Linked DNA regions of Homo sapiens: region 1 is linked to region 2. The links come from fine-mapping of genetic effects on gene expression. A gene starts in region 2. The other region holds a variant in brackets. All regions are shown on one strand. Distances are between the middles of the regions. Region 1 holds the start of TNFSF13B (TNF superfamily member 13b). Region 2 holds the start of ABHD13 (abhydrolase domain containing 13).

Region 1 (16,988 bases), 40 kb before region 2:
CTTTCCGTCTTTGGAGGATCGGACAGAGGGGCTTTCCTTCCGTGGGAGGATGGAAACACACTCCTTCAGTTTCATTTCTTCTCTTTTCTTAAGGCAAGAAGTAAGGCGTGACTGCTCCCTTTCTGTGGAGTCATCCATATCACTACTTGAACTTTGAAGGTTGGGGCCTTTAGAATAAGTGACCACAGGGAATGGATCATTTCCTGTTATCTGTGTTTGTTGATGTCCTGCGTGCACTACATGGCAGGGCTTGGCTCACCCCTCAGGAGAGTTATCCTGAATTTTCTCCTTTCTGCCTTTCTGCATCTCTACCCCTACTGTACAGTAGGTTTGCTGGCATTTACCCTCCGATTGGATTGCTCAATCTGTCTTCCTCATTTCACTTTCAGTTTTTGTAAGAATTTCAAAGTCTTCTCATAACACTCATGCTCAAGTAGATTTAAAACCCCTTAAATCTGCTGAGGAAACTTGGAGTTTGGATTGGCACAGTCAAGGGAAAGCTTTTAAGATATGCTCAGGTCTGAGAAGCCCACCCTTAAGTGTAGCAAGGGAACTCTGTCTGCTTGGGACCACATGGCTTCATAAGGAAGGGGGAAAAGCAGCTGAAAGTTCCTGCTGCTGTCATAAAAATAATTAATGTGAAGGTCAGATAAGCTAAGTGTTTTAGCATTGAATTGTTCTTAGCTAGAGAGTGATTTATTAACAGTCTTCAATTATGAAATAAAATGGAGAATCCTTGAAGGAAGTGTGGAAGTAAGTCCACTGGGAATTATTCATATTATTATACTAATAATGTCATAAAAAGAATGAGAGTAAATGTTACAGACGTATTTAGGTTAGATATCTGAAGGATTCTCTAAATATAAGTGAATATATTTTTAAGGAAAACATGCATAAACTTTTTCCTTCTGGGACTCATCACTGAAACTCAATCATGCATATGAACAGCCTGTCCCAAGGAGCCTGGTCTCAGCTTTTCTGCTCAGACTTCTGAGGCTTTAAGTCCCCGCTCAATATGATACTAGTTGAGGAGAATCAGCCTTGCCTCCAGCTCCAAATGCCTGACTGCTACCATTAACCACTCTCAAGTAGCTTGTCTACAACTCCCATGTTGACTGTGCCACAGCCTAACAGGTCGGTGTACAAGAGGTCCTTGATCACACAAGAGCCACCTTAGCTTTGGATTTTTCTGTTGTTGACTTGGTGGACCTGTGAGGACTGTTGCATTCATTCTAGTCCTGCCTTATCCTGATGGCTGGTTCCTGGACATTCCCCAGTTTTTCACTGCTTTGCCCCAGCATTGAAATATTGATTCATCTTTCAACAAACGTTACTGAGCACTTACCAAGCCCTGGGTAGTCACTACTCCCCTGTGGACTAAGAATAGTGAGCTTTAGTTCTGTCTCACTCTACATTTCCACACAGTCTTAAGTAAGAAGTTTACAGAAATGATATAGTGCAAAGTGGAGAACTCCAGACCCAGGCTTCTAGACTGCAAATCCTGCCTCACCCTCGCTCTCCTTATGCAAAGTACATAATCTCTCTGTGATTCCATTTCCTCACCTGTGAATTCGTATGACGATATTAACTGTCCCTGGGATACATAATGAGGCTTACAAGAATGTGGAAACAAATTACATTTTGGATGCTTCCATTTAAAAAAAAATTATTTCCACAGGTTTTTGGGGAATAGGTGGTATTTGATTACATGGTTAAGTTATTTAGTGGTGATTTGTGAGATTTTGGTGCACCCATCACCCGAGCAGTGTACACATTGAACCCATTTTTTAGTCTTTTATTCCTCACCCCCCTCCCACCCTTTCCCCTGAGTCCCTAAAGTCCATTAGATCATTCCTATGTCTTTGCATCTTTGTAATTTAGCTCCCACTGTGAGTTAGAACATACAATGTTTGGTTTTCCATTCCTGAGTTACTTCACTTAGAATAATTGTCTCCAATCCCATCCAGGCTGATGCGAACATCATTAATTCATTCCTTTTTATGGGTGAGTAGTATTCCATCATATATATGTATCATAGTTTCTTTATCCACTCATTGATTGACGGGCATTTGGGCTGGTTCTATATTTTTGCAGTTGTGAATTGTGCTGCCATAAACATGTGTGTGCAAGTATGTTTTTCGTATAACAACTTCTTTTCCTCTGGGTAGATACCCAGTAGTGGGATTGCTGGATCAAATGGTAGTTCTACTTTTAGTTCTTTAAGGAATCTCCACACTGTTTTCCATGGTGGTTGTACTAAATGATCAGGGAAATGTAAATCAAAAGCACGGTGCAATGCTTCCATTTTTTCATTCACTTTTATTCTTTACATTCAAAGTATGAATGAAACATTTTTCAGTTACAAACAGTGCTCTAATAGATATTTTCTACAACTGTGCTTGTAACGTCTGCAAGGGTTTCCCAGCAAATGCCTGCTGAGGGAGAAGCACATCTTCACTTTTACAGGCACCACCCAGTTACCCTCTGACGAGTTCCCATTTCCTCATTGTCTTACTACAAAATGACGCAGTCAGACTTACTTGTTTTTACCATTAGGATTGTTTTTTGTTTTTTGTTTTTTTCCCTTTGCATCTGCAAGTTTCCAAGACCTTTTAAAAATAACTTGTTATTATCCTGGCCCCCAAAATAAGCTGCTCTCTAATTTTTCTTACCTATAACTCCCACAATAAGGTGACCGTGCCCCAGTCTAACAGGTACGTAGACAAGAGGTCCTCCATCAACCTTCTCAGGTGGAAGTCTTCTTTTAGAAGGATGTTTGTAAACCCTTTTGCATCAGGAATGACAGTCCAATTCTTTTCTGTCAGTTCTTGTTCCAGAACAATTAGGGTGAGTCATACGGAGTAACCTTGCCATAAAAAATGGAATTCGTATGGGAATTGTATGAAGGCCTTCTTACTGAAAGTCATTGAGATCCTTTAGATGATGTGTTTGTGTATTCTTATGATTTAAATACATGCAGAAATGAAAGGATGCAACGCAGTGCTAGAAAGCAATTTCTCTCTGCGTTTCACTCAGGGTTTCCTGTAGCCACTGCTTCTCTCCATCCATGGACATTCTCCCTCTTCTGGTGAGTCGTTCCCCTCTATATCCCTCAGAGAAAATTCTGAAGACAGGGAATGATTTGACTGCTTTAGGGAATTCCCTCTGCCTTCGTCACTGTGTTGGGCAGAGACTTTCATGCCTGAACATCTCAAAAGAGAGTCACTGGCCAGCCTGCACGCAGCCATTTTTAAACCAGTGCCGATGTTTGTTGCGGCAGTGAGCCGTGCCATGCATAAAATGGGCAAGTTCTTCTTCCACAAAGGGCAGCCATCATGTCCCTCTGGCTAGAGGGACAGCAAGCAGGGATGGCAATGTGCACATCCTCCACAGGGATCTGACAGCTGCATTTTCTCTAAAGACAGGTAGAAAACGAAGTGACATTCATGACTCTTGAATCTCTTATTAGATGAACAAAAGGAAGTCATTACTCCATAAATCAAGAATCTGTTTCCGGAAGAGGAAATGGTTTGGCAATAATTTAACAGAAATTCTGTTAAACAAGAAGCATGTTCACGTTCATTGAATAATACACCACATCACAAGTTTATTCAGGGACAAAAGGCCACTGTATCTGAGCCACAGATTGTGCAGCGATCTTATTATACATTCAGTGTTTATTGACAGTATTTAGCTGCTTTTTACACACATCTTTTTCTCAATGTAAGTGTAAAGCATTCTTCTGTCATTCAATAAACAAACTGAGATACTAGGACTTTGTGACTGACGAAACTGTTCTATCCACTCAGAAATAGGCAGATAGGATTCAAAAGAATATAACTTGTGAGTTTGTCCGGGAGTCAGAAACAGCAGAAAATAAACATTCACTCTCTGACTATGTTCTTACATTGACAACCTCAAAAATATTTTTAAAAATGAATTATAAATTTCTGGCTAAATAGTGCTATAAAGAATTACAGGTTTGAGGAATCTCTCCTTTGCCCTTTTTCTTTGAGGAAAAGCGTGTTTTCCTCAAAATCCTTTGAGGAAAAGGATTTAGACCAGTCAAGCATGGCGACAACAGCTCTTCTAGATCTGTGAATGTACTCGATCTGTAAATGTACCTAAAATTACATCTAGATAAAATTGGTATCCTAAAGCACTCAGAATATGGAAGATTTATGATATAGGTTAAGTATTGCATTTCAGGAAAATATGCTGTTTTCCAGTAGAAATATTATATATATATAAAATATTTATATATTATATATTTTATATATATATTATATATAATGGAGAGAGAGAGAGTATGTGTGTTAAGTTATTATATAGTTAAATTTGATTTGAAAGGCTAAATGTTAATCACTGTATATAATTTTTAATTTAAAAAATTTTTAATTGACACATATATATTTATGAGATACAGTGTCATGTTTTGATATATGTATACAATGTGTAATGATCAAATTAGGAAAATTAGCATATCCATCACCTTAGACATTTATCATTTCTATCTGGTGAGAACTTTGAAAATCCTGTCTTCTAGCTCTATTGAAATATATAATATATTATTGTTAACTATAGCCGCCCTACTGTACAATGGAACACTGGAAATCGTTCTTCCTATCTAACCCTGACTTTGTACCAGGTGACAAACCTCCACCCCAATACCTCCGGTAACCACTCTCCTACTCTCTACTTCAATAAAATCAACTTTGTAAGATTGCATATATAAGTGAGATTACACAGTATTTGTCTCTCTGTGCCTAGCTTATTTCACTTAATATAATGTCGTCCAGGCTCATCCAGGTGGCTACAAATGACAGGATTTTACTTTTTATGGCTGAATAGTAGGCCACTGTATTATACCACATTTTTAAAATTCATTCATCTATTGATGGGCACTTAGGTTGAGTCCATATTTTGGCTATTGTGAATAGTGCTGAATCAACATGATTCATTGATTGGATGAATGAATCCATTTCTTGGATCCATTTCTTGGATACATTGATTGCTTTCTTTTGGATATAGACCTAGTGATAGAATTGCTTAAGTATGGTAGTTCTGTTTTCAGTTTTTTGAGGAACCTCCATACTGTTTTCCATAGTGGCTGTACTCATTGACATTCTCACTAACAGTGCACCAGCGTTCCCTTTCTCCACATTCTCACCAGCTAGAGGTCACTAATGCTAAATGAAATAAGCCAAGCATAAAAAGACAAATATCACATGTTCTCATTCATATGTGGGAGCTAAAAAGGTAGGTCTTATGAATATAGAGAGTAGATAGGTGGTTACCAGAGGCCAGGAAGAGTAGGAAGAAGGGTGGAGGGATGAAGAGAGGTTGATTTATGTTAGAAAAAATAAAACCTAATGCTTGATAGATTAGTAGGGCAACTAGAGTTAGCATTAATCTGTTCTACATTTCAAAATAGCTAGAAGAGAATCATTTTAATGTTCCCACAAAACAAAAGGATAAATATTGAAGGTGATTAACTTCCCAGTTACTCTGAATTGTTCTTTTCATATTATATGATGTATCAAATTATCACATATACTCTGAAAATATGTGCATCTGTTTTGTATCAATAAAACAAATAAATTAAAATTAAATGGACTGCAAATATTTTAATGATTTATTTGAAATTTCGCTTATTGAATGTTGAGAAGAGGATGGGTTTAGGAGTGTAGGCTCTGAAGCCAGAAGCATCTGTATGCCCAATTCTGCTTCGCCATCTTAACAGAATCTTTCTTGCCCCAAATCTAGACGCTGACTTTGTTTAGATATCTATCTCTGTGGGATGCCGACATAATCTCACACTTTAGGGAAGTCCTAATCATGAAATCTACTCACGATGACTCCATCTACATCACCACTGATTGCTAAGGAGGGACAAATGAGAGAGGCTTTTTACAGTTGGTTGTGAGGTGGTCTCCTGGGGGCACTGCTAAGAAAGAGTTCCTCATTCTTAAAGAGATTGACAAGAAAGAGATGCTCTTCTTCCACTAGACATTACAAGCCTGTCTGTGATCACCGAGAACTGCCATCCTGCAACTGCCGTCAGGCCCAGACTGAAACAGTGACGGCAAGAACAGGATTCTGGAGGGAACCTGGCTCTGTAAGGACATAATTGTCCTGCTGGATTACTCAACTCTTCATGCTTGTTATTTGGATCATACTATTTCCTAACTGTTTACGCCAATGTGAGACAAGATTAGGTGTTAATTCATCCAAAGACATCCTAAATCTGCTAGTTAGATTAGCAGTTGATTAGGATCCAAAGACATACTAATTCTGCTAGTTGTAAGAATTGTATTCTTACAACCAAAGAACTTTGTATAAGAGAGTTTTAAATGTTCTTTCAGAAATTTTCCAAATGTCCACTTTTTGAAACTACGGTGTAAAGAGAAAAGGTCAACACCCACAAGCTAGAAAAACTAATTCATTTGTTAAGAAGAGTCTTGACCGGGCGCGGTGGCTCATGCCTGTAATCCCAGCACTTTGGGAGACCGAGGCGGGTGGATCACGAGGTCAGGAGATCGAGACCACGGTGAACCCCGTCTCTACTAAAAATACAAAAAATTAGCCAGGCGCGGTGGCGGGCGCCTGTAGTCCCAGCTACTTGGGAGGCTGAGGCAGGAGAATGGCGTGAACCCGGGAGGTGGAGCTTGCAGTGAGCCGAGATTGTGCCACTGCACTGCAGCCTGGGCGACAGAGCAAGACTCCATCTCAAAAAAAAAAAAAAAAAGAGTCTTACATCCAGTTTTAATATAGCTATTTTTTAATAATTTAAGCTCTTTAATATGTTAGGAATCTTAAGAAAAATTATTATTATGTGAAGATGTGTTTAATGAATCTGTCTTTTCTATGTGGAACCAAAAAAACGTAGTCAACTCTTTCAGAAAAAAAAATGCAAAATTAGAATTTGTGCATCTCCGTGTAAGAAGGGAATAATTTCAAACTAAGAAAAAGTAAGAGAGATATAGT[G/A]TATTCTGAGAAAACTGCAACATGAATGCATCTTTCTTCTCCTTTACTAACAACTGTAAATTATCTTTCTTCTCTGAGCCAAATTGCAGTAGAACTTAGAGGTAATTGGGTGTTAGCGAGGGGCTTTTTGCTCTAATTGGCCCTAGATAGAGAAAAATAATGTTTGAGGTTTATTTCTCGAGAGTATTTGCAGTACTATATGTGAGACCCAAGTCTCAATGGGTCTTAGATAGAATGGTTGAGCAGAAATCTGTGGGCCCCAGGCAGTGGCTAACATCAGCCTCACAGGAATATGCCAAGTTTCCCGGGCCTCTGAGTACCCACAAAGGGAGTAAGTGCTTGGGGTTAGTCCTCCCTGCCCCTAAAGCTGAGAGACTATCAGGGGATCACAAGAAACAAAAGCCTCCCCCAAATGCCTCAGAGTAGACTAGAAGTTTCCCTGTTAGTCCAATCCTGGCTCATAGGGTTAGACAGGACTTGATTTCCCACCTCCTGAGGCTAGACTGCCCCAGCTGAGCCATCAAATCAAACACAGGAGGTGTTGAAGAGAGAAAGCTTGAAATTGGGATATCGGGAGAGATGCAAGAAGTGGCTGGACGTATAAATAGTGGCTAGACTGCAGTGTTTTTGCATGCACAGCTGTGGTTGTGTGAAATGTGAAAATGAAGCCATTTATATATATATTTTAAAAAGATTATGGCAGAGGGTAGGGTGGAAGTAGGGAAGATATGTACAGAAAGAAATGATAAACTAAGAGTGTTCAGCTCCATGAGTGCAGAAATGTGTGGTTTCTAGCCTATTGTATCTCTAGTGCCTGGAACACTTGTCCTTCATGGATTCTGCTATTCTCTGTTAAATGCTGACTAAATAAACGTCTTCCAATGAAAATTAAAAAAAAGAGAGAGAGAGGGAGAGATAAACCATCAAAGAAGGAGAGCACAGAACATCCCAGCATACACACAACACAAAGGGATGGAGACAACTTGAATTTTAAAAACTAATAGAGGACTTAAGATTCAACTGAAGAAACTTTTTAGGAACTAAAAAATATCTCTATAGTTTTCAATTAAATAATTTAATACATGCATTGAAGAAAAGGATGGTCACTTTTGAGCACTGAGTTACTGGCCTGCAGGCTCAAATAGAAGTAAAATCTCAAAACTCAAGAGTGTTTTGCAACTCACATGCAAGAAAAATGGGAACATAAAAGGAGGGAGAGGATATAGACTAAATAGAGGCAATGACATAAAAACTTACAGGAGAAAAGAATAATGCTTCTTAATCTATGAAAGAGCTGAAACTACAGTTTGAATTAGCTTATCAAGTCCTAGGTTAAAATGCTGAGAAAATCTGTATGGGTAGCTTTTTGGAAAAGAAAAATAAGCAAGTAGGTCGGGCGCGGTGGCTCACGCCTGTAATCCCAGCACTTTGGGAGGCCGAGTTGGGCGGATCACGAGGTCAGGAGATCGAGACCATCCTGGCTAACATGGTGAAACCCCGTCTCTATTTAAAAAAATACAAAAAATTAGCCGGGCGTGGTGGCGGGCGCCTGTAGTCCCAGCTACTCAGGAGGCTGAGGCAGGAGAATGGTGTGAACGCGGGAGGCGGAGCTTGCAGTGAACAGAGATCGCGCCGCTGCACTCCAGCCTGGGCTACAGAGGGAGACTCCGAGAAAGAAAAGAAAGAAAGGAAGGGAGGACGGGAGGAAGGAAGGAAAGGATGCTGAGAAAAATCGACCCAGGTAAGGTCTGATGGTATTACTGAATATAGAAAGAGTTGTTGGGATATGATGAAAATAAAGTATATAAAATCTTGTAAAATGCATTTAAAGCTATTTTTATGAGAAAAATCATATCTTTGATGGCATGTTTTAAAAAGAAGAATGGAAAGAAATAATCTGAGCATACAGGTCACAAAGCCCTAACAAGTTAAAAGGTGAAAACAAATTAAGCTTAAAGATTGGAGTAAAAAATATAAAAGAGATTAATGAAATAAATAATAACTTTACAATAAAGAGAATTAAAAATTGGTTATTTGACATAACAAATAAAATTAATAATTTGTAGTAAGACACAGTACAAAGGAGAAAGTATGAAATTTCAATAACAGAAATTTTAAAAGCGGGACATTTTAGAGCTATTACAGATCCTAAACAGGTAAGAGGATATTATGAATAAATTTGTGTGTAAAATTAAGGGGAAATTGGAGTATACATGCATTTCTCTTGAATACAAAAAAAAAATGAAATAACAAAGTAGCTAAACCAATTGCAAAGGAAGGATATTCACCATCCACTCTTTCAGTATTGTTCTAGGTACTAGGCATACAAAAATTAAAACAGAGAGAAAAAAAGTCAGAAAGAAAAAAGAAAACTCCTGTGTCATGGAGTTAAATTCTATTGTATAAGATCATTTTAAATGATTTCAATTTTTACTTGATAAATTTATACAAAACAGTTTCTCATCTGATTTTCCATTTCTTTTGTATCTGTGGTTAAGCATTTTTTTTAAAAATTGTCTGCATACAATTTCTCCTTTTATTCTTGAAAGAATAGCAAAAACTTGTCTGTTTTGTTAGTGTCAAATAAGTAATCAGCAGATAGTTCTGTTTATTATCATTATGAATTGTCTCATTCTACTTGTTTGTTTTGTTGTTTTCTTTAGTCTGACTTCTTCAGTTGAGTGTTCAAACATTCATTTCTTTTCTTATTTGTTGATAGGCTATTAAATTTCCCAAGAGCATTGCTTAGTAAAATTCAATGATATCAGGTATGTATTGTGTTTTATTATTATTGTGTTTTTTATATATTGTGCTTATTATTTTCTAGAAACGATTAATAATATAAATTAATCTAAAAATTTTGTTTGGCTTTCCAATTTGACTTAAAAGTTATTTAAGAGATATTTGTTAATTTGTTTTAATTTCCAGAAATTTTCTTCATTTTTCTCACTAACTTCTATTTTATCGTATTGCATTCAGATAATTTTCTCTCACAATTTCTACTTATAAAGCTTAATCAGAGTTTCTTTAGGGATTAATAGTATTGTCATTTGTGTGAATGTAACATAGCTACTTGAAAAGAAGGGATATCCTTAATAATTTTATTATTTTAGTCTACAATATCTGCATTTTTGTTTATATGATGTCATAGAATAATAGAGATGAGTAAAATTTCCCATATCTAATGTTTTTTCCTGTGTATTTCCAGGTGTTTTTCTTGTGGTTTCAGCTTTATGGTTATTGATGCTATATTATTTAACATTATAACACTTAGTGCAAAGATATTAAAAAATGAGAGGGAGATAATAAATTATGTCTATCAAAAAGATAACTTTTTCCCCAAATGCACAAGTGATACTTAAAATTTTAATCAAAATGGACAACTTTAAAAAGTAGTCTTTTACAGGCTACCATGACGGATAGTTTGCAAAGACTGGAAGAACTACTCTCTGGTGGCATGCCTGTTTGCAATGTGACTGATAATAAGGTTGGTCTGTCTCCTTATCCCCTAAATCTGAACTGACCTTGTGAATTGCTTGCTTTGACCAGTAGAACACACAGGACTGCCTCCCTGAGACCCGCATGCAAGAAAGTCAGTCTAGCTTACTGGAGGATGAGAAGATACATTGAAAACCACTAAAGTGCCTGAACCACCTGCCAGCACTTACTGCCAAATGTGTGGGTGAGGCTATCTTGAACCCCCAGCCAGCCTGGCTGTCAGAGGCATGCGGCCACACACATGAACTCAGGTGGAGCTGGCACAAGAGCCACCTGAAAAACTCACAGAATTACAAAAATAATAAAGGGGAGCTGTTACAGGGCACTAAAGTAGGGTGGTTTATTACTTAGTAATACCTAAGTGATATATCCCATTCATTGATTATAATCTCATAAAAATAGAAATCATTACAAAAAGGTGATCAAAGAGTTGCTTACTTGAAAATGTAAAAATACATTCATAGGTCAAGTTTGTGTCAAAGAAGTATGCGAAACTGAGGTTAGAAATTACCTAGAAAATCACAAAAGGGAAAACAACTTATACCAAACATATGAGCCAGAGCAGTACTCACTAAAAAATTATAGCATTGAAAACAAAGCTATAATATAAACACAATGATGTCCAAAAGAATTAATTCTCATCCAAAAGAATTTAAAAAGGAATAAGCCAAAATAATCCAGGTAATGAAATTAAATAAAGATAGCTAACACTGATGATTAATTATATATTGTTAGTTAAAACGTGAGCAAAAGTCATTCTTTATATATACATATACATATACAAAAGTCATTCTTTATATATACATTCTTATATATACATTCTTTATATATACATTCTTTATATATACATATATATGTATATATACATATATACATATATACGTATACGTATACATATACATATACATATACATATACATATACATATATATGTATACATATATACATATATACATATACATATACATATACATATATACATATACATATATACATATACATATACAAAAGTCATTCTTTATATATACATATGTCTATATAAAGAATGACTTTTGCTCACGTTTTAACTAACAATATATAATTAATCATCAGTGTTAGCTATCTTTATTTAATTTCATTACCTGGATTGTTTTGGCTTATCCCTTTTTAAATTCTTTTGGATGAGAATTAATTCTTTTGGACATCATTGTGTTTATATTATAGCTTTGTCTTCAATGCTATAATTTTTTAGTGGTTTCAGCTTTATGGTATGTGTATATATACACATATATATGTGTATACGTATACACATATATATATGTGTATATATACACATTATATATAATGTGTATATATACACATATATATGTATATATATACACATATATGTGTATGTGTGTGTTTGTGTGTGTGTATATATATATATATATATATACACTTCAAGTTCTGGTTTATATGTGCAGAGCGTGCAGTTTTGTTACATAGGTATACACGTGCCATGGTGGTTTGTTTGAAAATGTAAAATAATAAGGTTGTTTTGGAAGCCAATCTAATGATACTAGAAATATTAAAAACATATCTACACTTCAACTCAACAGTCTCACTACTGAGAATTTATCCACGGTATCCATGGTGAAAAAAAAACAATAGAAAAAGTGTGTGTGTGTGTGTGTGTGTGTGTGTGTACACATGATGTTAAGTAAAATTAAATTCTATTTTGTTTAATGATCTATCAGGGATCAAAGATTTCCCTTGTGTTTTTCTGCTACTCAAATATAAAGACTCTTGTCCTCAAATTGTTTGATTACCATGACTGATTGCTAAAACAGAAATATAATTTTATATGAAAACTCATAAAATCTGTTTTAGATACTTTCAGACAGTCATAAAACATGTCTAGTAGTGGAGACAGTATGAGTTCATAATTGTACTTGTCGTTGGTTACTTCTAAATTTACTAAATTTAAAATGCACTTGCTAATTTTTTGTCTATTTTAAATATAAGCCTCTGGTTATTAAAAAGTAAACAAAAACTGGTGGGTGATTCCCAGAATTTTAACCAAAAGCATAATCTGTTATCTCATGGCAACAGCTGTTTACATACTTTAAATTGAATAATGAGCTTTCAACAATTTCAAAATTTAAACACAATCCAGACCAATGTTGATATTTCCACACTCAGGACAAGTGGCGCAGTGTAAAATTCATGTGAAAATCTTATCACTATCAACCACCAACACTAGCAACAATTAACCAAGGATAACAAGTCAAATCAAATAAGTATAAACTGTACTCTACTAGTGACTACTGAAAATTCAGCATTTCAGAATACTAATCTTCAATCCTTTATCAAAAGCATTTTTTTGACTTTAAAAAATGTGGTAAAATACACATATATTATACAATTTACCATCTTCATTATTTTAAAAGTCACTCTGCAATTTCTCTTTAATATCAATGACTTGTGAATTTATAATTCTCACTGTGTCCCAAACAAGGGAACCTATTACATTTTGTAAACTTCTGCAGGTCATGAATTTTGCACCTCAAAGAGGATCTGTGTGTTGTTGAAGGCTTAAGAGGACAGCAGTGTGTGACACAGAATCCCGGACTAGCACTCAGAAAAAAATGTGTTCTGGTTCAGTTGTTCAACTACATTTAGTCATTTGACTCTTTGGTTTTATCTCTGTATTCTTTGTGAAAAGATGTAATCTTTTCTTTTTTTTTAACTTTATTATTATTATACTTTAAGTTTTAGCATATATGTGCACAATGTGCAGCTTTGTTACATATGTATACATGTGCCATGTTGGTGTGCTGCACCCATTAACTCGTCATTTAGCATTACGTATATCTCCTAATGCTATCCCTCCCCCATCCCCCAACCCCACAACAGTCCCTGGAGCGTGATGTTGCCCTTCCTGTGTCCATGTGTTCTCATTGTTCAATTCCCACCTATGAGTGAGAATATGCGGTGTTTGGTTTTTTGTTCTTGCGATAGTTTACTGAGAATGACGATTTCCAATTTCATCCATGTCCCTACAAAGGACATGAACTCATCATTTTTTATAGCTGCATAGTATTCCATGGTGTATATGTGCCACATTTTCTTAATCCAGTCTATCATTGTTGGACATTTGGGTTGGTTCCAAGTCTTTGCTATTGTGAGTAGTGCCACAATAAACATATGTGTGCATGTGTCTTTATAGCAGCATGATTTATAATCCTTTGGGTATATACCCAGTAATGGGATGGCTGGGTCAAATGGTATTTCTAGTTCTAGATCCCTGAGGAATCGCCACACTGACTTCCACAATGGTTGAACTAGTTTACAGTCCCACCAACAGTGTAAAAGTGTTCCTATTTCTCCACATCCTCTCCAGCACCTGTTGTCTCCTGACTTTTTAATGATTGCCATTCTAACTGGTGTGAGATGGTATCTCATTGTGGTTTTGATTTGCATTTCTCTGATGGCCAGTGATGATGAGCATTTTTTCATGTGTTTTTAATTTCCTTAAGCTGATAAGCAACTTCAGCAAAGTCTCAGGATACAAAATCAATGTACAAAAATCACAAGCATTCTTATACACCAATAACAGACAAACAGAGAGCCAAATCATGAGTGAACTCCCATTCACAATTGCTTCAAAGAGAATAAAATACCTAGGAATCCAACTTAAAAGGGATGTGAAGGACCTCTTCAAGGAGAACTACAAACCACTGCTCAATGAAATAAAAGAGGATACAAAGAAATGGAAGAACATTCCATGCTCATGGGTAGGAAGAATCAATATCGTGAAAATGGCCATACTGCCCAAGATAATTTATAGATTCAATGCCATCCCCATCAAGCTACCAATGACTTTCTTCACAGAATTGGAAAAAAACTACTTTAAAGTTCATACGGAACCAAAAAAGAGCTCGCATCGCCAAGTCAATCCTAAGCCAAAACAACAAAGCCGGAGGCATCACGCTACTGACTTCAAACTATACTACAAGGCTACAGTAACCAAAACAGCATGGTACTGGTACCAAAACAGAGATATAGATCAATGGAACAGAACAAAGCCCTCAGAAATAACACCGCATATCTACAACCATCTGATCTTTGACAAACCTGACAAAAACAAGCAATGGGGAAAGGATTCCCTATTTAATAAATGGTGCTGGGAAAACTGGCTAGCCATATGTAGAAAGCTGAAACTGGATCCCTTCCTTACACCTTATACAAAAATTAATTCAAGATGGATTAAAGACTTACATTTTAGATCTAAAACCATAAAAACCCTAGAAGAAAACCTAGGCATTACCATTCAGGACACAGGCATGGGCAAGGACTTCACGTCTAAAACACAAAAGCAATGGCAACAAAAGCCAAAATGGACAAATGGGATCTAATTAAGCTAAAGAGCTTCTGCACAGCAAAAGAAACTACCATCAGAGTGAACAGGCAACCTACAAAATGGGAGAAAATTTTCACAACCTACTCATCTGACAAAGGGCTAACATCCAGAATCTACAATGAACTCAAACAAATTTACAAGAAAAAAACAAACAACCCCATCAAAAAGTGGGCAAAGGATATGAACAGACACTTCCCAAAAGAAGACATTTATGCAGCCAAAAAACACATGAAAAAATGCTCATCATCACTGGCCATCAGAGAAATGCAAATCAAAACCACAATGAGATACCATCTCACACCAGTTAGAATGGTGATCATTAAAAAGTCAGGAAACAACAGGTGCTGGAAAGGATGTGGAGAAATAGGAACACTTACACTGTTGGTGGGACTGTAAACTAGTTCAACCATTGTGGAAGTCAGTGTGGCGATTCCTCAGGGATCTAGAACTAGAAATATCATTTGACCCAGCCATCCCAGTACTGGGTATATACCCAAAGGACTATAAATCATGCTGCTATAAAGACACATGCACACATATGTTCATTGCGGCACTATTCACAATAGCAAAGACTTGGAACCAACCCAAATGTCCAACAATGATAGACTGGATTAAGAAAATGTGGCACATATACACCATGGAATACTATGCAGCCATAAAAAATGATGAGTTCATGTCCTTTGTAGGGACATGGATGAAGCTGGAAACCATCACTCTCAGCAAACTATCGCAAGGACAAAAAAACCAAACACCACATGTTCTCACTCATGGGTGGGAGTTGAACAATGAGAACACATGGACGCAGGAAGGGCAACATCACCCTCCAGGGACTGTTGTGGGGTTGGGGGATGGGGGAGGGATAGCATTAGGAGATATACGTAATGCTAAATGACGAGTTAATGGGTGCAGCACACCAACATGGCACATGTATACATATGTAACAAAGCTGCACATTGTGCACATGTACCCTAAAACTTAAAGTATAATAAAATAAAAAAATAAAAAAAAACAAAATCAGAGCTGAAGGAAATTAAGATGTGAAAAAAAAATACAAAAGACCAATTAATCCAGGAATTTGTTCTTTGAAAGAATTAATGAGAAAGACCATTAGCTAGACTAATAAAGAAAAAAGAGAGAAAAACCAAATAAACACAATCAGAAATGACAAAGCACATGTTACCACTGACCACAAAGAAATACAAAAACCCCTCGGGGTGTACTATGAACACCTCTATGCACACAAACTAGAAAACCTAGAAGAAATCAGTAAACTTCTGGAAATATACCACCTCCCATGATTGAACCAGGATAAATGAAACGCTGAGCGTACCAATAACAAGTTCTGAAATTGAATCAGTAATAAGTCTGCCAATCGGGAAAGCCCTGGACTAGGCAGATTTAGAGCCAAATACTATCAGATGTATAAAGAAGAGCTGGAACCATACCTACTGAAAGTATTCCAAAAATTTGAGGTGGAGAGACTCCTCTCTAACTCATTCTGTGAGGCCAGAATCATACTGTCACCAAATCTGGCAGAGATATGATGGAAAACAGAAAACTTCAGGCAATAGAAATTAAACAGAAAAGAGAAAACTTGATGACATAAATGCAAAAATCTTCAAGAAAATACTAGCAATCCATGTCCAGCAGCACATCAAAAAGCTAATTCATCACAATCAAGTAGGCTTTATTCCCTGGGATGCAATGTTGGTTCAGCCTATGCAAATCAGTAAATATGATTAATGTCATAAAAAGAACTAAAAACAAAAACCATATAATTATCTCAATAGGTGCAGAAAAGGTTTTTGATAAAATTCAACATCCTTTCGTGTTAAAAATTCTCAATAAACTAGGTACTGAAGGACTATACCTCAAATAATAAGGGCCATCTATGACGACCCCACAGCCAACATTATGCTGAATGAACAAAACCTAGAAGCATTCTCCTTAAAAATCGGAACAAGACAAAGATACTTTCTGTCACCACTCCTATTTGATACAGTGCTGAAAGTCCTGGCCAGAACAATCAGGCAAGAAAAAAAAAAGGCATCCAATAAGAAGAGAGGAAATCAAACTATCCCTGTTTTCAGACAATATGATTCTATACCTAGAAAAACCCACA
Region 2 (16,283 bases):
CCATGTGTCATTGTGAGTCCCATCTGGAAAAATGGCTAATCTCTTAGTCCGAGATGGGGAGAGTTCATAAAGTTGTTTCATCATTACTGGTGGAATTAATTGATCTGAGAGTCCAGAGATGAAAAGTGAAGGCATTCTACACTGAGAGATTTTTCTGTAGGACAAAAATTTATTTTTGTAGCACCATAAAGGAAGGTAACGCATCGGAAAGAATGAAAATAAAGTGCTGGCCATATGTGGTATGCTTAAAAATGTGTTCTCCACCATAATGGCTGAAATCCTATGTGAATTTTCAGAAGCCAAATGAATAGCCACTGCTCCACCCAAGGAACGGCCAAAAAGAAAAATTTTTGTTTTATCAAGGTCAGGTCTAGTCATCACGTAGTCTAACACAGCTTCAGAATCTAAGTAGAGTCCTTCTTCACTTGCTTCTCCTTCACTTTTTCCATATCCTCGATAATCAACCAGCAAAAGGTTAACTTTGAGGTTAACCAACATAAGTAATGCATTTGGCAACCTGTGACCTATGTTGCCTGCATTCCCATGAAAATAAATTATAGTTGGGGAATAGGGTGAATTGTCTCCAGTGTATCGTATCAAAATAAGATTCAGACGTATTCCATCTTTGGTTCTGATGAAAATGTTTTCATGTGGAATGCCAGTGGGCATGGGAACATAAAGACGTGAAGAGGATGGCTGTTCTGGAAAATAAAGCAATACATCCTGGAATTTATACAGAATACCTGCTATTGATATGAATATTAACAAAAGTAAGATAATGCCTCCATACAGATGAAAAGTCACTATTAAAGGTAAAAGAGAAATACGGCAGAGAGCCCAAGACCATGAAGCCAAGGCTATTAGCCATCTTTCAACAAAGTTCCACAGCATCCAGGACTTTTCCATTGTAGCTCTCTGTAAGTATCCTAGAGAGAGAGAGGGAGAATATCAATAATTCAACGTCTATCTATTCTTTTAAAAATCCACAATATAATAAACTATGGTACTAGGCCACATGTAATTGTTAAATATGGTAATAGGTACAGTCCATCCACAAAAGTAGCTGCTATAATTTCCCTTGTCCTTTCTGTTCTCAACAGTTTCCTTTCTACCATATCCCTCCACTGTCATATTTAGGAAACACTAATATTCTTCAAATTAACTCATTTTTAACAAGTGCTTATTCTTCATATACGTGTTCTCACGGATTTGACCCAAAAAAAGTTGATGCGATAGTGTCATTTTTTTTTTTTAATGAGAAAACAGAAGCTCAGGGGCATAAGTAGACTGGCTATCATCTGCTTCTCAATGTAGAAGAGCTGGGAGGCAAACAAGCATGATTCTAGAGATTGTGGTACATCTGCTGTTAGGTTACGTATGTCCAGGGCAAACTGTACTGAAAAGGCAGTTCAGAAATTCCAACATAGCAAGACCAATCTAATATACTTTGTCAATTTTTTTCACATACGGTAGCAAAAACTAAAGAAACTAGGGTAAGGAGTTGGGCAAAACAAAATAAAACAAAAAAAAACAACTAGGGAAAGAAAGAATAAAAGTATCCCCCCTCTACCTCGAAGTTTTAATACTAAACTTAAATAATTTGCTTAAACACTAGATTCTAATATTGTATTAGTTTTAAGAAAATTATTAATGATTTATCTTTCATATGTAATTAAAAATAAATATCATATTGCTAGTGTCATGAGATCGGCAGTATCTTTTATATACTCTTTAATGAAGTTTCACGTCCTGGGGTCAATAGATTGCTAAAATGTATTGATAAGGCAATAAATACTTGAGGGTTCAGTGTGAAACAAATACACAGAAATCCTCTGAGAAACAGAGATAAATAAAGTAAAATGACTCACTGGAGAACAATTCTTAAAAAGATTACTAAAATATGTTAACTGATATAAAGAAAGTAAAAACTATTAAAAGAGAATTTTTTGTTATCAAAAGGTTTATACATGTTGTCTTAAAAAGGCAAAAGAATTGAGATATGTTACAAATTTTCTTATGTACTATTCGTCTACTTATGCTTATTTACTGAACTTTTAAAAATACTACATTTCCTTCTTTCCCACTGACCAAACTGCTATAAAGAGGTTATAGATTGATTATACAAATAATGAGTTGGATGATTTAACAAATTTGATTTTTTTCTATTATTTCACTAAACATAGACTTTTACATTTGAATTATTATTCAAATGAACTGAACCTTTTTGAGCATAAACCAACATTTTTCTGATTTCCCAGAAATCAACACTGCCACCCAGTGGTAGCAAGTTTTATTACAGTATCACATCCTCCCTGAATAACTATTTATCACTTATTTCCAGTCTCAATTGCCTTTTCAGTAGAATGAGTTTTTAAAATGCTTACCTATGAGGCTGGTCATTAGTATCAAGTAAGATTAATAATGAGATCATTCATAAATGTTACAGACATGTTAACTTTATTTGCTTTTGTGACTGGTATTTCTGGCTCTACTACTTTCTTACTGTGTTCTGCTCAAATTAGTTCTTACTTAAAAAATTATATAAAACCAGATAAAATAGCTCCAAATACACGAATAAGGCATATTTTAAAATTTGAATCTTATATTTACATTTATATCAATTTACATAGTTAAATTTTCAACTAATGAACTTTGAAAAGTTATTTTCGTTTTAGTAGCCTCTAACATCTAATTTTAGCAAATACTGAATTAAAATTTATAAGACTAGGAATTGTATATCTCTTTTTCACTATTGCATCTCTAATATCTAGTACAGCACTTTATATATACTTACGACTAAAACATTTTTAAAATAATCTAATTACATATACGAATTATTCAATTTATTTTAAAAAAAGTATTCTGAGCAGTGGGCATATATGTTTAAAACAACATCAGAAAAATGGGCGTATTTGTTTGGGTCTATTACTGGCTAGGAATAATAAGGGATAAACTTACCGTTTTCCACAAAACATTCCTGAAAAGTCACATTAACTAAACTGTTTTGTGATAAACAATCATAATCTCACAATCAGTTGTTGCACTATGGAAGTCGGAATAAAAGTCCATTCATCTTGAGTAATATCAAATGGAAGTCATTTTTAAGAACAGGTTAATAAAAATTGCTCTGGGGTGGCGGAGTGCGTGGGTATGGGTGTGTTTTCTCCTTAACATATTCTTATATTGCTGGTTTAGAGTAAGAACTCCACTCACGGATTGCCTTATTTTTACCTAACCCCACTTGCTAATAATCTCTGTTCCCTAGTCTGTATGATATATATTTCCATCTCAAAGGTGATCTTAAAGGAACCAGGACAAGTGAACAATATCAGGAAGGATTTTTAATTTACTGAATTTGCTGAAAGTATCAGCAAAGCATAATTACCATGCACCATCTGCTGAGATGTAAAAACAACTTCATACCCAGATGTTATGACAGTCAATAGAAACAAACACTGCCTCTAATAAAGTCGACTGCATGGATCCTACAGCCAGCATTATGTTTTCTATTGATTTTGTCAATAAATTAGTGTGAGTAAACGGTTAACAAAACCTTTCTCCCTCTTCAGATAAAAAATGACCTCTCCTTAACCTTCCTGCACTGTTTCCCTGGAAACCTGATAAAGGTGGGATATCAGCTGTGTTTCTAAGCAACAGTGTAGTAAAAATGGCTCCTACTGATGAGCTACATCTGGACTGAGAGGACAGTGAGCAGGGCTAAACATGCCCAGTGGGAAGTATAAACAGGGGCTTTTCTGAATTGAATACGACCTGTAATTGGCTTGTCATTTGCTTAGTCCTGGATGCTATACTCACATGCTGTCACAAAAAGACACTGTTTCCTGTGGAGCATGAAGCAGCTAAGCCAGGGTGGTGCTCACTCCCACCCTTGTGTCATTTTCCACTAGACCTGAGCTATCATCTGGAACAATATACCTAACACTGACATGTTGGGTTTTCAAAAAAGCAGAAAGGCTGATGCACAGTACGGTCCACTATGGTATACTGGGTCTTGTGAGTATCAATGTCCAATTGACCCCAAGACCACTGCTACTAGTCATGAAGAATGAGTGAAGCAATCAAGTATGTCCCATGTGGTAAAACACCTATAAAACGTGTCTTCAGAGGAGATGTATTATTTGTTGGGTTCTTCTGCATGTGAAATCCATTTGCTGATAACATCTTGGCATCATAAAAATCAGGAAAAAGGATGCATTTAATACACTCAAACTTATACCAACTAGAAGGGCTGCTGAGTAGGAGAGCCAATTAGACCTGTTCCATGTAGAATATAGAAATGTAGATAATCAATAACTTCTCATCTTCCAGTCTTCTTTTACATCATTATTGTATGTATTTTTAACCTTATGTCTACATCTTAAATGAATACCTGACAGTCCCATTTCTCAATTTTCTGTTTGCTATGTTATCAGATCTGGTATTACATGTCAGACATTTCTAAAACCCACCAATCTGTGGTTTTAACCACCGCCAGTAACTCCTTAACCATTTACTATCTGAGAACTTGCTGACTGACTTCTCATAATGATCTCTCATACAATGTAAACTTCACTTTAAAATAAATCTAGTGGATTTTTCTCAATCCACACTGCAACACCAGACCCCCAAAGTGTCATCTGCTATTGGCTTCTCCTCTACACTCAAATTGCTGTTTCTCTCTGCCCTATACCCCGAAAAGCAGGCATTTTCCAAGGTCTTCTCCACTCATTTAGGATACTATGTTCTTTCCCTCAGTGATTTCATTCCTTTTCATGGCTCCAATTATCACACCTGTGTATGAATTATTCCCAATCTACAAGTCTACTCTTCATCTACAATCTCAATTTACCTGTTCCTCACGTACCTGATGCTTCACTGATATTTCAAACTTATCCAAAACTAAACACATCCTGCTCCCTTCCCAACGTTTTGCAGACTTTATGCTAATTATACACAAAAAAAGCATGATGTGTAAACAAATACATTTTTTAAAAACCCAGGATATGTAGCTAAGATTTAAGTATTACAGTTTATTATAACCTGTACCAGTCTTGTATTTGAATGAAAAAAAAATCAACCTTAGAAACAACTTTTGTGCTTTCTAAATGAAGTGGTTTGAGGTGTCACATTGATATTAGTGAGTGTGTCTCAAAAAATAATCTACTGAAAGCATAACTAATCTTTATTATCATGTACTGTATAAATTAGATATGATTGTTTTCCTTTTACAAGAATGGTTTTGCAGTATTAGTGACATCCTGCTATACTACATAAGTAGTTTGATCATCTGATGCAATTTAATATATGGTGCTCATCTTGAGGATTTATGGTCCTAATTGGCTGGTTGTAGTCACCTCTAGTGCTCCCTACTTACTGTCTCTAAATTTAAGTCCATGACGGGTATACAATAAACAATTTGAGACTAAAAATAAGAGCCGTCTAGAACTGTAAAGCTCTCAGACCACCTTGCTGGCTAACAGTGTTAGCTGGATGGTAAGTCAGCTAAGGGCATGAGTGATGGCCATGCTTCTCTGATGTCTACTAATCATCTCCTGTGTTCATATAGGATCACGAATGGTTCCATTTTTAAGGAAAAATATTTCATTTAAATAACTATTTTATAAACTGATGCTTTAGAAAAAGAGATCAATATTGAAGTCATGCCCACTACGAATGGTATGAGTCCTCAGAATATCACTGCAGGCTCCCAGGGGAGCTGTGAAACCCAGCGTGGACCACTGAAGCAGGCCTACAGTTGATTTCCCAGCCTCTTCCGTAAGAGATGGTCATCAGATTCCAATGCATCCTAGTATACTATACAGTCCTTGCTCTCAAGTAGCTTGTGATCTACTCAGTAACGTTCAAGCAACTCTTGAGGTACTCGGGAGACAGATATGGATATAAATAACTACATACCTAACGTAAGTTCATTTAATTATAGAGCAGACAAAGAAAAATCAAAGAAAGATGACAATTGTCATTACATATAGCAAAGGAAAATCAAAACCTTAGCTGTATCTTTCCTTCACAACATAATTTTAGTAGTCTCTGGATTTCATCAAGGTTGATTACTTAGAGAAACCAAGTGGAAACTTATGCAATGTTTTAAAAGCAGGACAAAACATAACTCCAGGATTAAGAATCTCTATTACTTTCCATCAAACAGCTGTCTGTGACACTTATTTTTATTCATTTAGCACGATTATTCACAGAAACTGCAAGTATTCAGCATAATCTAAATAAATACTTGGCAAGGATAGCATAGAGGAATTTAGAGCTGTTAAACTGGATGAACTTTGAGGGCTCTATTAAATCTGAGATCTTTCTATGCCAGTGGTTCTCAAAAGGTGGTCAGAAACCTGAGGGTCCCCAAGACCCTCTAATGGGGTCCACAAGATCAGTATTATGCTCATAATAATACTAAAATATCATTTACTTTTTTCACTGTTTGACACTTGCACTAATGATGCATAAGCAATGATGGGTAAAATTGCTGGTGCCTTTGTAAGAATCAAGGTAGTGGCCTCACGTGTTGGAGTCACTGTATTCTTTATCACCATGAGCTCACGGTAAATGAGGGAATAATCCAGTTTTACTTAAGAATGTCAAAGAAGAAGCAGTAAAAATTATTTTATCTCAACTAACAAGTACACATCTTTTTAACACATTGTGTGACAAATGTGTGACAACACTGGAAGTGCACATAAAGCATTTTGTGCTATGTATTGAAATACATTTGAATTGTGAGCTGAACTAGCTGCTTTGTTCAGGTAACAACATTTTTATTTAAAAAGACAACTGACAAACTATGGTTGTTCAGACTTAGAGGTTTGGCAGATATTTACTAGAAAATGAATGAGGTTGCCAATAGCTCCTAGACACTTAAGGGACCTTTTTGATGGCACTGTGGTAATCTATTAATATTAAACATGTCACCATTTGGAAAAATCTGCATAACTCCATAAACCAATATATTCCAAATGACCAATGAATGGTGTCACAAAATCAAGCAAACGTGAGTAAAAAATTCACTACAAACCAACAGATTTTGATGTAACAAGAGACAACAATTTCTCTGATGTAGGTTTCAGATGGCACAATATAACTGACCTTTAAGGAAGTGCCTCCTGTTGGGTGATGGAGTCGTACCAACGAGTACCCACAATTCTCTACTACAATACTCTTCCCTTTACAACTACAAATTTGTGTGAGCCTGACTTTCTTCATGTTTCACTTTAAGAGCCTAATAATCTGCCTGTCTTCTATGAGGCAGACATTAAAGATAATTACAAAAATATAATCCCACACCTCTATTTTTTGTAATTACAATTGTTTTATATAAAATTTTATTTATGTGAGTATGTAATGAACTTACTACTGCTATTTTTAAATGAATTAAAACTTCCAGTTTTCCAATTTTAATTTATACACTTTATAAACTTCCAGTTTTCCAATTTTAATTTATACACTTTATAAACTTCCAGTTTTAATTTCTAACACAATAAATATCTATATAATCCACATACATACAAAAAAATCTTTGGGATCTTTACATTTCTAAAATGTAAACGGTCTGAGACCAAAAAGCTTGAGAACCACGGTTCCATACTATTTAACCATATAACTGTATTGCCTTATGCCCCAGAGACTTGCCTTCTTCAAATTAAGAAAGATATATTACATTTTTTTAAATCCTTTCTGCATTATAACATATATAAATATATTTAAGGTTTTTACCCAGTAATATTTTCTCCAAAAACTAAAAATAAATAAAAACTTATATATATCAAGAACTGAAACTCAAAAGTATAGGAGTAAATACATTGTAATTATTGCCGTAAGGTTAGTAGGAGAATAAATTAGACAAATCTATTGTATCATAGATAACATTTTACAATAAAAATTGTATTTTAATGAAGGTCAGAACTGCCCTACAAATTAAATTCTAGTTATTCTAATTATTTTTAATTAAAAAGTGTACATTGGGCCAGGCATGGTGGCTCATGCGTGTAATCCTAGCGCTTTAGGAAGCCAAGACAGGTGGATTGCCTGAGCTCAGGAGTTTGAGACTAGTCCGGGCAACATGGTAAAACACCGTCTCTACTAAAAATTACAAAAAATTAGCCGGGCATGGTGGCGCGTGCCTGTAATCCCAGCTACTAGGGAGACTGAGGCATGAGAATCACTTGAACCCAGGAGTCGAGGTTGCAGGGAGCTGAGATCGTGCCACTGCACTCCAACCTGGGTGACACAGTGAGACTATGTCTCAAAAAAAAAAAAAAGTGTACATTGTTTTGCATATTGTATATCGAGTTACGGATTCTGCCACCAGCAAATGGTCTTTTAAAAATACAAAAAAGTGCATTACCCATAGTGAATTACAATGAATTTCCGAAAAACAATTTGGCAAAAGGCTAAACAATTTCAAATACAATTAAAAAGTCCTAAGTCATAAAGGCACTATTATTTCTTTAAAGATCTTTAAGTCCATCCTAGATTGATAATTTTGGGAACAGCTTGTTTAAAAATAAAAACTGTTCATACATTTAAAAAAAATGTGCAGGTTCAAGTGAAGACTGTAAAAAGTGGAAAGGGAGTTCGTGTGTCAATGCCGACATCCACATCCCAGCAGAGAATGAGGACCCCACACCCCATGGGCTCATTAATTACTCTGGGTGAATCACAGCTTCCAATCACATGTGAAGTAATGTGGAACTCAGATTCAGTATTCTTATATCAATCTCTCTCCTCTTCTGTTAAGCATTGGGAAGTTAAGAAACCATGCCAGCTGCACAGCTGAAATGGAAACACAAATAGCTGCTATCAAGGTGTTGGAGACACCACAGAATGAATTATCTATTTCCCTAATGGTTACCCACATGCCATCAATAATGAAAAAGTGTGTATTAATAGTCCTATGGGACAAATGAACAGTAACTGCCTATGGAGATGCTGGATAATAACTGGATGGTTCAGACAGCATCTTTAACTAGGATTTAAATCTGTATGAGCAGATAGCTCAAAAATTATACCAGGCAGCTACTTAGTAGCTTTTTCATGCTTGAAAATCTTGGCAAATAGAGTCAACTCTGGCAGAAGTAAAATGAGAGATTATTGTTACTATGGAAGCCAACCACAATTTGTTCTGAGATTATAAATATCTGAAATGTTTAAAACAAATCCACTAGCCTAAAACTGTAGTGATGTTAGACTGATAATGAAATTCACAAAGTTTCCAATTTATAAATGGGCAATGTTCTAAAACTTTACCTATAAACTAGATGGATGAAACTTAGAATATTTGTTTTGTATAAAACCAGTGTTATATAACATTGAGTATGTGAAAGTAAGTACAACTAGAAGCCTTACTAGAAGTATCTAGATTCTCAGGCTAGCTCATAAATGCATGTAGTCCCTGTACTGGAAATACTACATCTTTGCAAGGGATTTCAGCAGAATATACTGTTGTAGGAGTTCACACCATGTGAAACAGAAACATAAAATATAATAATGTATTACAAAATCTGTCATTTGAGGAAAAATATCTTACTTAGAAGAACTAGAGCATCTTTTAAGTCCACACGAAAAAAGGCTATTTAAAGGTCTTAAGACTTTCCTGGGGCAACTAAACAAGGATTAGAAAGATTTCAGAATCTGGGTAATACATTAAACAGAGAAACAGAAATAGATTCCCCTGAGATAAGTTATGAGAAGAGATCATGGGAAAATGTTAGATCCAACAGTTTCCTGCACCTATCACTAAGTTATATTGTTAGCCCAGGGCAATTTGGTTAGTAAACCCTCTTATCCACATGCCAAGAGGTCTTTGATGTGCCCAAGAAGAGGGCAGTGTGCCAAGGGCTACCTGTAGGTACCTGGCTTGCTTTAATCATTCCAAGTTAACTGTCAGTGGGAGGCAGTGTGGTGCAATGGAAAGGAGACAGTGTTTTGAGTCATGGTCTGTTAAGAGATAGGTAGCTTTTGCCAACTCACTTAGCCTCTCTAAATATATATTTCCTCGTATGTAAAAGGAGGATGAAAGATTAAATTGAACTACTGTTGAGATAAAATGTAATAGTGTGTTAAGTGCAGCTACTTCTATGAGACAAAATTTAAATTACTTAATTATGTACTATAGCAGAGTATGTGAAAGTAAGGACAACTAGAAGCCCTATTAGTCCTAGATCAAATAATGGATATGATTCCCTAGAGGTACCGTATCTGAACACAGGAAGTAATCAGAGCAATGCACTCTTTCTCTGTTAAAACCAAACTCAGGTAGTAGATCCTCTAGAAAGCTTTCCTTGGACCCCTATTCCCTCCTGCCACCCATTCCACATTCTGTAGTTTGTGCAAACTTACGTGGCAGAAGTTACTATTACAGCGTAATTAACCTGCTTACACAGGCTGTGAGTTCCTCGATGACAGAGACCTCGTCCTATTCAACTCTACATTTTCTGTACGCAGCAGTGCCTGATGCATAGTGGGCCTCTATTAACGATTATTTAATTGAGCAGCTGATGTCTTAGGTAGGATATCATGACATTAACACTAAATCGGCAATCAAGAAATCTTACACAGTAAAATAAAATTTGATATTTTAGTCAAAGACGAGTGATTTCCCTAAGCATGCATACAAATAAGTATTGATCCACGAACCCCCTCCCGTCAAAAGAGATCAGTGAAAAATCCAATATCAACACACAAAGCCAATATACTCATCTCTTTCTATCCAGTTACTATCACATAGTAAACATAAATAAGAGTTGTTAAATGGGGACGGACTTTTTTTTGGTTTCGATACCTTGGGTAGTAATACTAGTAATTCATTTTACTTAAATGTTGACTAAAATCTACAGCAAAATTGACTTCGATTGTATGGGGTGCTTTTTTGATGTTTCCTGAATAACCCCAGAACTTCCTGTCATGATATTCACAGGTCTAAACCTGTTACTGTCGTGATTAGATCGGGGCTCTCCCTCTCTCCAACCTAGTAGCTGGAATTATTCTATTTTACTTTTCATGTCTGTGTGGGAGGGTGGGGGAGCGGAGGGTTGGATTTTAGGGATCTTAGGTTTGTACACATTACTGGAAATACAATTGACATAGAACACTAAGATACGTTTTAGGTTCCAATTACAAAACGACACCCGGCGAGCCTCTGGCAATGCGCGCACCTTAGTTTCCAAAACAGGTATTTGGCTTCAGTTTGCTTCCCCTGGTGAGTGGTGAGCGGAGTCGGGGCGGCCGGCAGGGCTGCACCCCGGGCTGGTCCTCCACAACCCCCGGCGCTCGGCCCCCGCACGACCCCCAGGGGAAGCCGCACTAGCCCCGGGGCTCCCCCCACAGCCTCCCGGGAGGGTTTCGCGCCCGCCTGGAGGAGCCGGCGGCTCCCCGCGACCCTCCTAGAAGGAGCGGACCGGCGCTCGGGCCCCGCGGGCTCGGGGTCCCCGAGCCGCACTTACTCAGACTCGCGGACAGGCTGCGCAGTCGGCCGCGGGCACGAAACCGGGCGCCGCGCAGCAGCGTACCCCCGCGTCGCTTCCGTCGCTCCTCATCATCCTCCTCCAGCCCAGGGGCCGCTGCCGGCGCCACGGTCTAGCCCGGAGCTCCTGCTGCGAGCTGTGGCCCCACTTCCGGCCCCCGCTCGGGTGTCGCCGGCAAATGCCCCCGCCGGCTCCCACATAACCTGTTCTCCGTCTCCGCTCCCGGAGTGGGAACCCTGCCCGCTCTTCCGAGCATGCGCAGAAGCCGCTGCCAGTGAGCCCCCGCGACGGTGGCCCGGACGGAAAAGATACCTCGGCGGCGTGGGCCCGGCTCCCTGCTCCAGGACCTAGGGATCTTGGCCTTCCACCCTCCTCCGAGCACCAGGACTCCCTCCAGTTCCGTACCCGAGGCCTCCGTGGTGAAGAGGTGCCGGACCCGATGAGCTCGGGAGTCCACCATCGCTCTGCAAGCCGCAGGTTTGCGGAGCAATTTGTTCTGCCTGATAGGGTTGTTAAGGGTGTCGCAATGAGGTCCACGATTTAAAGCGCTTCCATAACTATTTTTCTCCTTTTACCTCTACGAGAGTGGACTGTCAAGGGCGAATGCAGGTTTTGTGAGGCCTGAACCTTGTGCCATTTGGAGAGCCCTTTTAAAGAAAAATAATGTAAAATTGTCTTATTTTTGCAAATTTTACCGAGGTACACGACCATGGGAACACCTCGTTAGGGCCCCTCTCAAGGCCTTGGAAGTGTTCGCAAAAATGGGCCCTTAAAACTTGGGCTTCATTAGCTTCGCTGTCAACCCCCCTGTGCACTGAAGTGTACACACTTGTTTACAGATGTGTGCCTCCCCTCCCTTGGGCTTTCCTTATTCTATGTCCCCTATTTTATATATACAGAGGATATTTCATAAATCTGTGGGTTTTTTTTTTTTTCCTTTTGAGATGGAGCCTCGCTCTTGTCGCCCAGGCTGGAGTGCAATGGCGTGATCTCGGCTCACTGCAACCTCCGCCTCCCTGGTTCAAGCGATTCTCTCGCCTCAGCCTCTGACCTAGCTGGGATTACAGGTGCCCGCCACCACGCCCCGCTACTTTTTGTTTTTGTTTTGTTGCTGTTTTGAGACGGAGTTTCGCTCTTGTTTCCCAGGCTGGAGTGCAATGGCAAGATCTCGGCTCACCGCAACCTCCCGCCTCCCGGGTTCAAGCGATTCTCCTGCCTCAGCCTCCGGAGTAGCTGGGATTACAGGCATGCGCCACCACGCCCAGCTAATTTTGTATTTTTCTTCAGTAGAGACGGGATTTCACCATGTTGGCCAGGCTGCTCTCAAACTCCCCACCTCTGGTGATCCACCCACCTCGGCCTCCCAAAGTGCTGGGATTACAGGCGTGAGCCACCAGGCCCGGCCTAATTTTTGTATTTTTTAGTAGAGACGGGGGTTCACCATGTTGGCCAGGCTGGTGTCAAACTCCTGACCTCAAGTGATCCGCTCACCTCAGCCTCTTAAAGTGCTGGGATTACAGGCATTAGCCACTGGCCCGGCCTGTGGTGTTGTTGTTATTGAACATATGTGTCTTGCTACCAGATGGAGAGCTCCAGGTCAAAGCTGGGTTCTTGAATCATAGCTTCCTAATCTTGATCACGGAATAAGTGCCAAGCATATATAAAGTAGACCATTTACATAAATAAATTAATAATCATGGCAACTCTAGAAGATACTTAGTGAAAAAAACCCTTGATTGTCTTTGAACCAATCAACTAAAATAACATGATGAAATGGAGACTGGGCTTTGAATCAATTTGGAGTTTGCCTGGTTTCATAATTCATGGTTCTTCTCATGTAACTAATACAAAGTCCAGCTTCTGACATTGTAGGAGCTCAGTAGAGGTTGAACAAGCTACAAATGTACACGGATAGGTACCCTCTCCTAAGATGGGCAAGTGGAGGCTCCTCTACCTTAACACTATTCATTTTTCCTCCAAAATAAATTGATAACTAAATTGAAGAGCAGATACTCACAAAACAATATCATGAGACTTTACAACATCACAGATGATTTTAGATATTCAGGCATATTAGGTCAATTAGACATACGAAGTAAATAACTGAATGTTCTTGGGCTAGACGGAACCTCCGCTACAAACTAGCACTGAATGAAATGTGTCAGTTTTGAAAAAGGAGGTTTTTATACATTACACAACCTCTAAGGGCACTTAACAGCTCTAATATGTTTTATCAGGGCCCACTGCAGCAAAATTTATTTTATTGTAAAGCAATATTTTATGCTAAAATAAAATAGTTCTAAAAGTTGTTTCCACCCCTCTTTATGAATAACTTCTCACTTCTCCATGGCGAAAGAGGACTGACCACAGCAAAAATTCGGTGGAAACCAACAGCTCCTGGAACACAAAAACTGGGGTTGTTTATAATCTCTCCACCCTGAATATCTAGCACCATTACTATATAATAATAGGTGCTCAATAAAGGTTTGTTAAATAACTTTATTTTTAAACCTTAAACAGATACTAGAAGAGTCCATAGTTGATTTCTGGTCATGCAACGGTTTATTTCTATATTGTAAGTTATGTATTGTTATGTATTATTTCTGTATTAAGAGAACTGAGACCACAGTAGCAAACATCATTTAAAAAAAAAAACAGCTCTATATAGTTTGCAAAAGCCTATTTTTTAAAAGTTTAAATGAAACAACCAACGTTTTGAGTTGGGAGGATGTCCTGTTCTCTCTTGGGAGTTTTCACAACCAGCGAAATCAGTATAGTTACCACTGTTTTACGTACAGAGAACAAGAATTAGAGGCTATCACTAGCCAGAGCACAAAGTGATCTTAGGTCTCCCTCGAGACAAAATCCACTGGCGTGTGGATCAACTGCTTGCAGAGAGCATCTGCTGCCGAGGCCAATAGGAGCCGTGTGTACTCAAGACCCTAACCAGGATCCTGCAGGTCCCGCCTCCGCAGCCCCACGGGGCTGCCGGCCCCCCCACCTCCCATCGCGAGCCTGGCTGCGCCGGCGTGCTTGAGCCCGGTGACTGCAAGGCCCCGGGTCTCCCCTGCGCCTGCGCGGCGAGCAGCTGGCGGAACCGGCATCTTCTGGCGCCAGCTTCCGGCTTAGCGGCTGAGCTTCAGGCTTGACGTCAGGTGGGAAGGGTGTGGGGTGGCAGGTGGGGGCGGTTGGGAGGTTGGGGGGGGTTGGGGTGGGGGGGGTGGGGGGTGGCAGATTGACGGTGTGGGGGGAGTCAAGTGGAAGGTGTGGTCCAGCAGGCGGCGAGAAGTCTGTGGGGCAACAGACCGGGGGAAGGTCTGTGGGGCGTCAGGCGGGGTATCTGTGGGACGTCAGGTTGGGGTCTGTAGGGCGTCACGTTGGGGGTCTGTGGGGCGTCAGAGGGGGGAATCTGTGGGGCGGCAGGTGGGGGGTGTTCGGGGCGGGGTTTGGGGTGTGTGTGGCGGCAGGAGGCGGGGGAGGTCTGTGGGGCGTCAGGTTAGGGTCTGTGAGGTGTCAGGCGGGGTTTACGTGGGGTGGCAGGTGTGGGGTGTGTGGAGAGTCAAGTGGGGGGTGTGGGGCGTCAGATTGGGGGTCTGGGGGATCAGATGGGTGGTGTCTGGGACGTCAGGCGGGGGTCGGGGGGTCGTCAGGCGGGGGATGTGTGGGGAGTCAAGTAGGGGAAGTGGGGCGTCAGATTGGGGGTCTGGGGGATCCGGTCGTGGGGGTGTCTGGGACGTCAGGCGGGGGGCCTGAGGGGCGTCAGGTGGGGGGGTCTGGGAGGCGTCAGGCGGGGGTCGGTCTATGGGGGCAGCAAGCAGGGTGTTTGTGCAGCGGCAGGTGATGGGAGTTGCCGAGTCCACAGCGCTGTAGACTGCGCCGCATTAGAAGCCTGGCCTCCTGATGCTGTGCTCTTCATCTAGACCCAAGCCCCAGGTCGTGGGACGATTTCTCCCGTTTTTGACTCCCTGGAACTGTATTGCCTGCTTTACCTGCGTACATGTTGATTCTTTCTCATGGCAACCCCGCAGGAAACCATCAAGATCTCATTTTACAGCTGGGATTCTCTGGTTCACAGAGGTAACGGAGCTTGCCCGAGGCCAGGTATTCACTGGGAATCCGTGAAGGGTTGGGGGAGAGTAGGGGGAACGGGCAGAGGAATGATGTAGACTCCTTAGGGATTTTCCATTTTCCGAGAGGGTACAGGGGGCATTGGAGCGGGAGAGACTTTAGGCTTGGAGGGAATTACTTTATTTCTCTTCTTACACTTGGTCTTTCATTAACTTTTGGGATCCCAAAGCCCTTCTAGCGTCTTTGTCTGCTCATTTCTTTTTGCTGAGATTGTCCCAAATTGTCACTAAGTGCTGTGGAAGATAGGCAGCTGTAAACCCTTTGTTTCCTAGGGAAACACAGCTTGTCAAGGGTTGCATGAAGGATACTTCAGTTGCATTCGTCACTTACTCCTTTTTTTCCTCTCTCTTTTTTAAGTGCAATAGCATAGCACTTAATCACCTTCCATAGTCACTGAATAAAACCTGCCGGTTTATTTTCATGTGTCACTTCAGGACAATTTAGTCAGAACTGAATGAATGATGAATCGTTATTGTGTACTAATTGCTTGCATTCATTCTCCTGAAAGCTTTGCTTATTGTTAAAGAGTGAAGCTTCTTCCCACCTTTTTATCTCGTTAATATTTTGCAATATTTATATTTTAAATGTTGCTTGGATCAGCAAGCATTATAGTATTAAAATTATCAAGACTTACTACTTTTTAAAGCACATTTTGTAGATTATCTGATT

The links. PIP is the estimated chance that this variant, and not a neighbour inherited with it, causes the effect.
Region 1: its variant is fine-mapped to the expression of ABHD13 in whole blood (INTERVAL, PIP 0.93).

What each region holds. Positions count from the first base shown.
Region 1 is chr13:108,253,046-108,270,033 of GRCh38, reverse strand. It overlaps TNFSF13B (TNF superfamily member 13b), which reads right to left and starts at 316. Exons shown (of 6, transcript NM_006573.5): 1 at 1-316. The coding sequence starts at 138. RefSeq lists an enhancer at 1-280. The variant G/A (reference allele first, on the strand shown) is at 6,988.
Region 2 is chr13:108,213,842-108,230,124 of GRCh38, reverse strand. ABHD13 (abhydrolase domain containing 13) reads right to left here and starts at 11,733. Exons shown (of 2, transcript NM_032859.3): 1 at 11,466-11,733; 2 at 1-926. The coding sequence starts at 906. LIG4 (DNA ligase 4) reads left to right here and starts at 14,589. Exons shown (of 3, transcript NM_206937.2): 1 at 14,589-14,641; 2 at 15,515-15,587. RefSeq lists silencers at 11,211-11,450, 14,387-14,526 and enhancers at 11,731-12,060, 14,370-14,664.